3 linked regions of the Homo sapiens genome follow. The protein of the gene in region 3 binds, or shares a complex with, the protein of the main gene of each other region. Each region holds a gene or a part of one and is shown on either strand. Other genes may lie near its edges.

The links.
Region 1: BUD13 (region 3) and SNW1 share a complex: the UniProt entries of both Homo sapiens proteins name them as parts of the minor spliceosome.
Region 2: BUD13 (region 3) and RBMX2 share a complex: the UniProt entries of both Homo sapiens proteins name them as parts of the activated spliceosome.

Annotation. Positions count from the first base shown.
Region 1 is NC_000014.9:77,740,473-77,744,223, reverse strand, and holds part of SNW1 (SNW domain-containing protein 1), read left to right. Parts: intron 1-3,751. UniProt on the Homo sapiens protein: Involved in pre-mRNA splicing as component of the spliceosome. As a component of the minor spliceosome, involved in the splicing of U12-type introns in pre-mRNAs.
Region 2 is NC_000023.11:130,400,132-130,403,882, forward strand, and holds the start of RBMX2 (RNA-binding motif protein, X-linked 2), read left to right. Parts: upstream 1-1,855; 5' UTR 1,856-1,901; coding exon 1,902-1,906; intron 1,907-2,123; coding exon 2,124-2,239; intron 2,240-3,670; coding exon 3,671-3,722; intron 3,723-3,751. UniProt on the Homo sapiens protein: Involved in pre-mRNA splicing as component of the activated spliceosome. As a component of the minor spliceosome, involved in the splicing of U12-type introns in pre-mRNAs.
Region 3 is NC_000011.10:116,771,470-116,775,220, reverse strand, and holds the start of BUD13 (BUD13 homolog), read left to right. Parts: upstream 1-2,233; 5' UTR 2,234-2,256; coding exon 2,257-2,399; exon of another isoform or gene 2,400-3,190; coding exon of another isoform or gene 3,191-3,234; intron 3,235-3,751. UniProt on the Homo sapiens protein: Involved in pre-mRNA splicing as component of the activated spliceosome. As a component of the minor spliceosome, involved in the splicing of U12-type introns in pre-mRNAs.

The sequences.
Region 1 (3,751 bases), on a different chromosome or scaffold from region 3:
TCCTCAGCTTCCCAAAGTGCTGGGATTATAGGCGTGAGTCGCTGTGCCCAGCCTATGCTATTTTCTTTTTTTCTTTTTTTTTTTTTTTGAGATGGAGTCTCACTCTGTCACCCAGGCTGAAATGCAGTGGCACGATCTTGGCTCACTGCAACCTCCCAAAGTGATGGGATTACAGGCATGAGCGACTACACCCGGCCAGATCGTTGCTTTTGTCTGTAATGCAGCCACTAGAAACAAACCCCAAACTGGGACCACTCTCAGGTTTATATCTTTTTGTTTGTTTGTTTTCTAGAAGTGGATAGATTCATGCATGAAGTTTGGAATGCATTGAGTAATTCAACATTAATCAAGTAACTATTATGTGCCATTGGCACTGGGGGAGCACTTTGATTGTTTAGGACCATCTTCAGCATTGTACAATGTTTAGCATAAGTGGCACTACCTATAAATCCCAGTAGCGTCCCCATCCTACCCCCATTGTCTTAACTAGAAACACCTCACACATTTACAAAGGCACTGGGAGAGAGGAGTTAGAGGTGGCAGTGATGCCCTGTTTGACAATCACTGATTTTCCTGTTTTAGAAGAAATAGAAATGGACTGCATAATATATAAAATAGGATTTAAAAAATTTGTTATTCCAGAGACTGAACAGGTTATTGGATTTATGAATTTGGACTAAGATTTCTGATTTGCTTCCGAGAGGTCTGGTATTCTTCAGAAACGAGGGAGTTCTCACTGAAATATTAATAGTGAATGAGTAAGAATGGAAAATACTAGGTGTTAGGTATAAGAGGTGAGAAGAATCAGTGAGGATTCTAAGACGTAATATTCTAGGACAAGTCTAAGGCAATTCTCTACATGTGAAGTAAGTACTGTGTATACGACTTATTAGTCATACAAAATTGGGGATGAAAAAGTTTTTTTTAGTGTAAATCTTGATACAACCAAATGCTTTTTTTTTCCTAATTATGAAAGTGATAAATCTTTTTTTTTTTTTGAAACGGAGTTTTGCTCTTGTTGCCCAGGCTGGGGTGCAATGGCACGATCTCAGCTCACCGCAACCTCTGCCTCCCGGGTTCAAGTGATTCTCCTGCCTCAGCCTCCTGAGTAGCTGGGATTACAGGCATGTGCCACCACGCCTGACTAATTTTGTATTTTTGGTAGAGACAGTGTTTCTCCGTGTTGGTCAGGCTAGTCTCCAACTCCCAACCTCAGGTGATCCACCCACCTCGGCCTCCTAAAGTGCTGGGATTACAGGCATGAGCCACCACACCCAGCCAAGTGATAAATCTTGAAATAAAGGGCTTGGTGTATGTATTTTTCCCTCTGAAATAGTTATGTAAGAAATACTACATACAGGCCAAGTGCATTGGCTCATGCCTGTAATCCCAGCACTTTGGGAAGGTTGAGGTGGGAGGATCATTTGAGGCCAGGAGTTTGAGACTAGCCTGGGCAATATAATGAAACCCTATCTCTTAAAGAAACGAAATGTTACACACGTACTATACCCAAAAGAATGCCTTCAACGTATTACCCCTAAAAAACCGTAACAACTTTAAACTGACCCCATGATAAATTATATGTTATCTTGTTTGTATGATTTCACACACTAGCTAAGCTAGATTAGCGTTTTCTTTCTACCTCACATAGTGAATGTTTTGACAGGCTTATCCTTTTAGTCAGTCTAGTTCTTTGCCAGTTTTCTGTAATAAAATATCTGTTTCACAGATGAGTTACTACTTTATCTTGTTGACAAAGCTTATTTGTGCTTCTGATACTTTCAAGAGTATATTGTATTTTTCAGAAAACGCTCCCCAGCCCATTTGCCTCCTGGTACTCAGTTTCCTCAGCACATTTAATTCTCAGACTATAAAAATTTGGGGTTTTGGCCAGGTGCTGTGGCTCACGCCTGTAATCCCAGCACTTTGGGAGGCCGAGGCGGGTGGATCGCCTGAGGTCAGGAGATCGAGACCAGCCTGGCCAACATGGTGAAACCCCATCTCTAATAAAAATACAAAAATTAGCTGGACGTGGTGTCATGCGCCTGTAATCCCAGCAACTTGGGAGGGAGGCTGAGGCAGGAGAATGGTTTTAACCCGGGAGGCGGAGGTTGCTATGAGCTGAGATCACGCCATTGCACTCCAGCTTGGGCAACAAGAGCAAGACTTCGTCTCAAAAAAAAAAAAATGGGGGGTTTTATAATTAATTACTATGGAGGAATCTTGCTCTTCAGATGTCCTTCACTCAGCCTTGTGAGATACTAGAATCTTATTGATGCTCATTTGAAGGGTTATTAACTTTGGAATGCCCAAATAAGGAGCAGCAAATGACTCTTGTATGCTAAATTAGTATTGACACTTTATGTTGAACATACATGACTACCAGGGAGCCATTTACTTAGAATCCTTTCCTTATAACCGTTGCTATGGAGAAGTGATAAACTCCTCATGATTAACTCTTCATAGAATTGGTATTTTTTTCTTGTGTTGTTATATAATTTTCAGCTTAGGGTTGTATAGGTTTTTCCATGCTGAGAGGAAATAAGACTTTTGAGGTCAGATAGTAGCTGTATGATCTTAATGTACTGAACCTCACTCTTTTCAGTAGAGTGAGCTTTATGGTCCCTTCCAAAATCAACACTCTTAGAGTATGGTGACACTAATAACTCACATATCAGTAGTACGTGTTTTGTGCTAAATCATCTTAGGCTTTCTTACCTGATCCCTCTTCTCACTCCTGAGAAAAACAAGCTGGAGATTTTAGTGTATAGCCATGAGATAGTTTTTTCTGGGAAATCAGTAGCTTATAGAAAGTTCTGTACGGCCTAAAATATAAACTTATTTATTTATTCATTCATCCATCCATTCTTTAAAATAGAGATAGGTCTTGCCATGTTGCCCTGGCTGGTCTCGAATTCCTGGGCTCAAGCTATCCTCCAACCTTGGCCTTCCAAAATGCTGTGATTACAGGCGTGAGTCACTGTTCATGGCCTATAAACACCTTTAGCATGTAACAGAATATCTCTAAAATTCATTTATTTATTCATTTGTACAAAAAATATTGATCAAATATCTCCAGTCATTATTATAAAGCACAGGAGACACTTTTTTTTTTTTTTTTTTTTTTGGAGACAGTTTCACTCTTGTTGCTCAGGCTGGAGTGCAATGGCATGATCTCGGCTCACTGTCACCTCCGTCTCCTGGGTTCAAGCGATTCTCCTGCCTCAGCGTCTCATGTAGCTGAGATTACAGGCACCCACCACCATGCCTGGTTAATTTTTCTGTTTTTGGGAGAGACGGGGTTTCACCATGTTGGTCAGGCTGGTCTTGAAATCCTGACCTCAGGTGATCCACCCACCTCGGCCTCCCAAAGTGCTGGGATTACAGGCGTGAGCCACCGTGCCCTCCCCGTTTTTATTGTTTTAATACGGGAGACAGATAATAACCATGTAAAGTAGATAATTTCATGCTGTGAACAGTCTTGATCACAGTAAACAGTGCTATGGAGCAAATGATTGGGTGGGGAGGGGTTACTACTAAGGCAATCAGAAGAAGCCTCGATAATGGAGGACCTTTGATCTGAGACACACAGATTGAGAGCTTACTTGAAGAATGATAAACAGAACTCTGTAAAGGCCTAGAATTGGGGAAAAGTATGTTATGTTCAAGAAACAGAAGATGAGCTAGTGTGACTGAAGCATAATGAGTGAGAGAGTGAGAGTTGTAAGGGGAGATTGAAGGCATAGGCAAA
Region 2 (3,751 bases), on a different chromosome or scaffold from region 3:
CAATGGCTACTTCAACCCACAACTAAGCAACCTGAGATTCCTAGGAGCAGATAAACCCCATGTGCAATCTGTCACTGTTTAGCTTTCATTGCCAAGATAATTTTACAAAGTTAATGAATAGCTGGGTTGGAATGGGGAGGGGGGAACAGACACAGAATGAATGAGGAGGAACTGTCATTGGTGGGCAGCCTCTGTTCTCCTTCTTGGCAGGACATTGGTTACATGGTGGGCCACTTGAGGGTACAGTTGTTATCATCATCAAAATGCTTTTATGAAGGACCTAATATCTGGTGCTCTGAGTTAGGCCGCACAGCTCTGGACTTTCACTTTTAGAACATCATAGTCCAAGAGCAGGTATTGATGTGGACACATGCAAAATGGATTCAAACTGTCAATATGGGTTAAATCACATATTATACATTAATAATCTCTTCCACTGGTTTCTAGATATTTCTGGTTGAAATCTATCAAGCAAATATATCTTGTCCCCTTAATTATAATATTAGCTCCTTGAAGGCAGAGGACCCACCCTGATACTCCTGTCTACAGACCTTAGCTGTACAGGACAAATCTAGATGTTCAGTAAGGACTGATTAAATCAACCTGACCTGACGGGTGCAGGTAGAGTACCTTTCAAGTTAATTTATTCCTTTGAGCCTCATTTCTTCCTCTACAAAATGAGGGTGGAAATTTTTTTTCTTTTCTTTCTTTTTTTTTTTAAATAAAAAGGAGTCTCACTCTGCTGCCCAGGCTAGAGTGCAGTGGTGCGATCTCAGCTCACTGCAATCTCTGCCTCCCAGGTTCAAGTGATTCTCCTGCCTCAGCCCCCTGAGTAGCTGAGATTACAGGCGTGTGACACCATGCCTGGCTAATTTTTGTATTTTTAGTAGAGACAGAGTTTCACCATCTTGGCCAGGCTGGTCTTGAACTCCCGACTTCAGGTGATCCACCCGTCTTAGCCTCCCAAAGTGTTGGGATGACAGGCATGAGCCACCACACTTGGCCCCCCTTTTTTTCCCTTTATTTTAGAGACAGGGTCTTGCTATGTTGCCCAGGATGGTCTCGAACTCCTGAGCTCAAGCAATCCTCCTACCTCAGCTTCCCAAAGTGCTGGGATTACAGGCTGAGCTGCTGTGCCCGGCTAGGGATTGTAATTTTCTCTGCTTTATTGGGTTGTTGTGAGGGTGGAGAGACAATACATGTAAATTGCTTAGTACATACTCTAGCATCGTATAGTACATCATCTGCTCAATTGTTAGCTATTAATTTAACAATATTAATTTCTGCCTCCTGCTCAACTAGGAGAGAGCCTATGGAAAAGAGTAAGTGCAGCAGTTCTCATGCAAATGTGTAGGTATTCGATTCAGCCTATAGAAGCACACTGGTCTGTTGCCTATGTATTGGGATAAGGACAACAGAAGATTTACCTTTTCACCTATCTTCTTCACTTTTCTGCCATGACAGGGATGCTTTGATGGGTCTGTGCTTTAGCAACTGACTAGGAGCGAAGGTCCAAGTGGGACTCTGGACTGGGAGCGAGGGCTGAGACTAAAGTCGCCACATCAGGCTGCTTGTTCCGTTCACTCAGCAAATATTTATAGCTAATCTAACCAGTTTCAGATATCGTTCAAGAGGTGGGGGTCCTGCAACAGCCCAGGCTTGTGCCTTTACCCCATTTCACAGAGAAGAAAAAGCGAAAAACTAGAGAAAAACCACCTCTCCAAGAGGTAACCGCACGCAGCGCGGAAGGCTGCTAGTGCGCAGGCGCCACGCCCCGGTACGCCCCGGCTCTTCCGGCGCGAGGTCACCGAATCGACTGGCCACTGGCGCCGGGGCCGCGCATGCGCTGCGCTGCCTTTCCCGGGCGCTGATTCCTGAGTGCTGAGCGCGAACCCGAGGAGATGAAGTAAGGCGTCAGCTTCCTTTTGAGGAAGGAGCAGCGGGCCACTGGGGGTGGTCCACCGGGACTGGTGTGGTAGAGCGTCTGCGGGGCCGAGGGGCGGGAGCGGCGCGGGGACTGGAACAGCTCGTCCCCTAGTTTTGCTCTTCCTCAGCTCCGGCCGGTTCGCACTTACTTGTCTGCTTTTCTGCCTACCCTCCCCACCCCCCCCGCCACCGTGAAGCCCTTTAACTAAGGTGAAGCTGATCAACGAGCTGAATGAACGAGAGGTCCAGCTTGGGGTGGCCGATAAGGTGTCCTGGCACTCCGAGTACAAGGACAGCGCCTGGATCTTCCTGGGTGAGGTCCACATCTTTCTTCCTCAGTGCTCTCCAGATTCTCCTGCTCGGTTTCCGACTATTTCGGCATTTTCACCCTTCACTCCTGCTTACATTCATCGCCCACCTTCATATCCATCTGCTGTCTGCCCGGGAATCCGTGTTACATCTCTTTTCTGCCCCATTTTTAGTTTTCCTTCCCTGCCAAATCAGTGCTCATGAGAGTTACTGTTTGCCATTTGCTGTGCTAAGGTTCAGGGACTGTTGTTATTTCTCTCTCACCCTCTGACCCATTATACTGCTGAGGAAATTGGGGTGCAGAGAAGTTAAGGGACTTCCTTAAGGTCACATAGCTAGTAAGCGCAACAGGCAGAACTATAGCATTCTAGAACTCTTGGTCTTAGCCACAGCTCCATATTGCTACCACCACCCTCCCCCATTCCCCTTCCCTTCCAGAATTCACTTTGCTCCTCTAGCTCCTGCTTTCTAGTCCATGGCCACGTTACCATTACTGTATTCACTTTATATCACAATCAGTAATTGTACAAGTTTGATGCTTCAAAGAGGTTATTGTACCAAACATTGTGCTAAGCACTTTATATACATCGTTTTATTTAACTCTTATAATAATCTTGCGAGTTACGTGCTAATATCCCCATCTTACAAATGAGGAAATAAATATTTGGAGGGGAAATTATTCCCTAGGAAATGCTTAACAGTGTCTTTATAACCTTTGTCTATGTGTAGGTGGGGTTAATCATGACATATGTAGACTGATTTTGTATCATAGCTGTAAATTTGTGGGTAATGAGCAGATGAATTCAACATGTTTGTGGAAGCAGAGGTTTGTGATGGAAACTATCTGCTTTGTCCATAGGATTTTGGGTGGCAGGAGGACTGAGTGATCAGATTAGTTTCGTTAGTGGTGACCCCGACTTCCACTCAAAATTAATTACTCCTTTTTCTGTACTACTGGCACCTTACATGTACTTCTGTCATTGAGTCAGACTTAATTTCTTTCTTTCTTTCTTTTTTTTGAGCTGGAGTTTCACTCTTGTCGCCCAGGCTGGAGTGCAATGGCACGATCTCGGCGCACTACAACCTCTGCCTCCTGGGTTCAAGCGAGTCTCCTGCTTCAGCCTCCTGAGTAGCTGGGATTACAGGTGCCCGCCACCTCACCTGGCTGATTTTTTTTTGTATTTTTAGTAGAGCCGGGGTTTCGCCATGTTGGACAGGCTGGTCTCGAACACCTGACCTCAGGTGATCCACCCTCCTCAGCCTCCCAAAGTGTTGGGATTACAGGCGTGAGCCACGGTGCCCAGCCCAGACTTGATTTCTTTAAGGGCAGGGCCTGTTGCTTACTGTTTCCACCCCTAGTGCCTGGCCTAGTGCGTGGTATGTAGTAAACACTTGGTAAATGTTGGTGGAACTGAAATGTGGTTTTCTCTTCTAGGAGGGCTTCCTTATGAACTGACTGAAGGGGACATCATCTGTGTGTTCTCACAGTAAGTGTCCTTTCATTTCCTGCCTCCTG
Region 3 (3,751 bases):
CCAAAGTGCAGGGATTACAGGCGTGAGCCACCGTGCCTGGCCAGAAGTAGAGCTTCTAAGAGGCAGGTGTCAAACCCATGCCAGTCAGACTCTGAAACCTGAGGTCTGAATATTTTAAGCTCAGCTCCACAATTACTGTATTTGTTCTATTAGATACAACTGCAGAGAGAGGCCAAAGCTCAGAGCAGGCCATTGGCACGGCATCTGATCCTGCTTAACTGCCCTGCAGCACAGGGTGGAGACACTTGGGCCTTGTCAGGCTAAGGGACTGGGGTAGGATGGGTAGCAGTGGAATTGAAGACAAAGAAAACAAATGGGCAGAAGATGGGTGGGTGGAAGTTCAGAGGGCTATCCTGGCAGTGTTCACTGGAGCAGAAGTGTGAGGCTTTCTGAATGCCTGCTGACACCAGGGTGGGGCAGGGCTGTGTAGTGTGAGATGCACCAAATTGGACGAGAAGCCAAGGCAGGCTTGTGTATGGGGTACCCTGGGGCCCTCCGCCTAGTGAAGCCCTATCTTCTCAGCCCAGCGTCCTCGTCTCACAAGCCCTCAGAGCCCCAGCCTGCTTTCCTTTCTGGGCCTGTGCTGCAACCCCCTCAACATGGCCCACTGGGTAAAAATTCATGCTTCAAGACTGATCCCCAAGCCTGTTTTGTATTATATGAGTAAAGAATTTTTTAAACACTTATCCCCAGATAATGTGTATTTATTTATAAAGTATAGCCCTGTCTGCTTGACTAATATATTAAAAAAGTGACCTTTTTGACTCTTGGTCCAAGAAACTATTGTTTGCACTTTTGTGTAGTTGTGTATAGCATCCTGCAAATTCTGTCAGAAGTCTGTGATTTCAGTAACACTAAAACTTCTCTCTCAAATGGTACAAGTTTTCAGTTTTAAGACAAGTTCTGGGAATCTAATGTACAACATGTTGACTATAGCTAATAATTCTGTATTGTTTACTTGAAGTTTGCTAAGACAAATTTGCTTAAGTGCCCCCCCACCGAACTACTACATAAATTAGTGAAGGATGTTTTACTTAATTTGATTTTGGTAATCATTACACAATGTATAATTATATCCAGTCATCACATTGTACACCTTGAATATATATAATTTTTTGTCAAATAATAAAGCTGGGAAGAAAACGATAAAACTGACAATCTAACATATATGATGAGGTAAAAAGATCTGGTATTTCAAGAAATTTGGATGACCTCTTGCACCCCACTTCGCTAGCCTCTACTCCCTAGAGTCATGTTCTGACTATGTGAAGTTGAGCAACTTCCTTAATCTTGCCACGCTTCAGTTCTTATCTGTAAAATATGATAATGAAACGATTTGAGAATTGTGAGGGTTAAATGAGATAATTCAGGTAAAGCTCTAAACCCCCTGCAAAGAATAAAGTCTTTTCTTTCCCCCCAAAACTTGAGTGTTAGAATTCATTCTCTCTGGTTTCTCTCTTTTACTATGCTAAAAAATGATCCAGGTCCGTCCTTCTCATTGGCAAGATTGTTTTACAGTTTCCTTCAAGAGATAACTGGGGGCTACTTGTAATAGAACACTAGAAGAGTTACACAGGTCTTAGAAACTACGTTTTTCATAGTAATTATGTTGGTTTGCACTTCCTGGCTTCCTTTCTTGGACGGTAGGTACCTGGAAGCCTAGTGGAGCAGATTCCCCCCACTTAAAGATACTTATAAAAATAACGAACATAGTTCCGATGACCATGTGCCCAACACCGCTCTGCGCACTTCACACAGTAATATCATCTCAGCCTGTGACCGTTCCGAGTTAGGTGCCGGGATTCTCCCTGTTTTGTGATAACTTGCCCGAGGTCGTACAGCTAGCCAGCTATGGAACCAGTATTCAAACTCGGCTACGCTGCAGCCCGTGGCCCTCCACTTTCTTGCTCGTGCTCTGGAGTTTAGGCGGCCGATGGGGGCGGGGTCCTTTGGGTCAGGTTGTGGCCTCATAGAACAGCGCTTGCTGCGGTTGGATGGATGGGTGGGTGGGTGGGTGAGTGAATGAAGAGAAGAAACCTGGTGGCGTCGTCCCAGGGCTGTGGAGCGCCCCGAAGGTGCGCACGTCCCTGGCTAGCCTGCGAGCGCGTCCCGGTGGCCGCACCTGCCAGCCGCGCGATTCTTAGCACTCTCCGCCACTTCCGGCCGTGGCCCCGCCCTGTCGGGTGGCTGGCGTCCGTTACGCGTTGAGGCATTTTGTCCCCAGCGCCGACCCGTCTCTCTGCCCCCGCCGCTGCCATGGCGGCAGCTCCGCCGCTTTCCAAGGCCGAGTATCTGAAGCGTTACTTGTCCGGGGCAGATGCCGGCGTCGACCGGGGATCTGAGTCCGGTCGCAAGCGTCGCAAAAAGCGGCCGAAGCCTGGCGGGGCCGGCGGCAAGGGGTGAGTTGGTACCGGCCGGGGCGGGGCCTGCGACGTCTAGCCACCCCTTCCCAACTCCGCCCTCGGCCGCCCGGCAGTTCCTTCCCTCTTGGCGGGTCTCTCGGCTTCTCCGCCGACCCCTGCTCATGCTCAGGGCCCCACTCACATCGCTTGAGGCCCCCCGCCTTGCCTCTGCCGCCCCGCTTACATCTCGAGCCTCTGAGCAGTAGCGTCAGTGCGTTAAAGCCGGGGTGTAACTTTGATTACTCTTTTCCCGCCTTGGTAGACTTCCGTCCTCTCCCATAGAGAATGAATATTGTGCCTCGAGAATAATGGAGCGGATTCAAAGCCTCTGTGCTTGGATCTTTAGGGCCCGGTACCTGCCTGTGGGGATTCCCAGATCCCAAGGACTTGGTTCTGAATCAGAGACCTTTGATCACCTCCTGTTACTCTTAGTAATAGTCCTAACGTGAGAAGCTAACATTTATATAGTTATACTTTTCTTGCCAGGCACCATTATAAGAAATTTAAACATATATAAGTTTATTTAAGCCTCACCACACTACCATGAAGTGGGTATTATTTTCATATGGGACAACTTTGTGGCCCAGTGTAGTGGGCCCTACCAAATCGTTTTCCACCCAGAACCACAGAATGTGACATTTAGAAATAGGGTCTTTGGAGATGTAATCAGTTAAGATGAGGTCATACTTGATTAAGGTGGGTGCCAAATCCAAGATGACTGTTTGCCTTTTAAAAAGAGGGAAGTATGGATACAGACACAGCAACAAAGGAAAAACGACCATGTCTAGATGAAGGCTGAGATTGGATTGGATTTATGTTGCCAAAAGCCAAGGTATGCTTGGGGCTACCAGAAGCTGGGAGAGGCAAGGAAAGATTCTCTGCTAGAGACTTTCCAGGGAGGATGGCCTTGCAGACACCTGGATTTCAGATTGCTAGCTTCCAGAACTGCGAGAGAGTTTCTGTTGTTTTATGCCACGCAATTTGTGGTACTTTGTTACAGTAACCCTAAGGCACTGAGATACCCAGTGAAGTCACATTGTTCTAAAGAACTAGTCCAAGTTCTTTTCTGGTTTGGTGCTTGCCTTATTATTGTCTTCGTCTTTCTGCCTCGCTGACTTGTGTGGATCCTTTGGAGGCAGTGCCATGTGATGAAAGTAGCTTGAGTGTTGGAGCAGCACTGGTCAGAGTTCGAATCCTAGCTGTGCCACTTTATAGGCTGTGTACCCTTGGGCAAGGTGTTTCATCTCACTGAGCTGCAGTTTCCTTATCTTTAAAATGAGAATAATAATAATAATGGTTTTATTAAGTGGTGGTTGTGATTAGAGGGATTGCATTAAGTGACCCTGGCT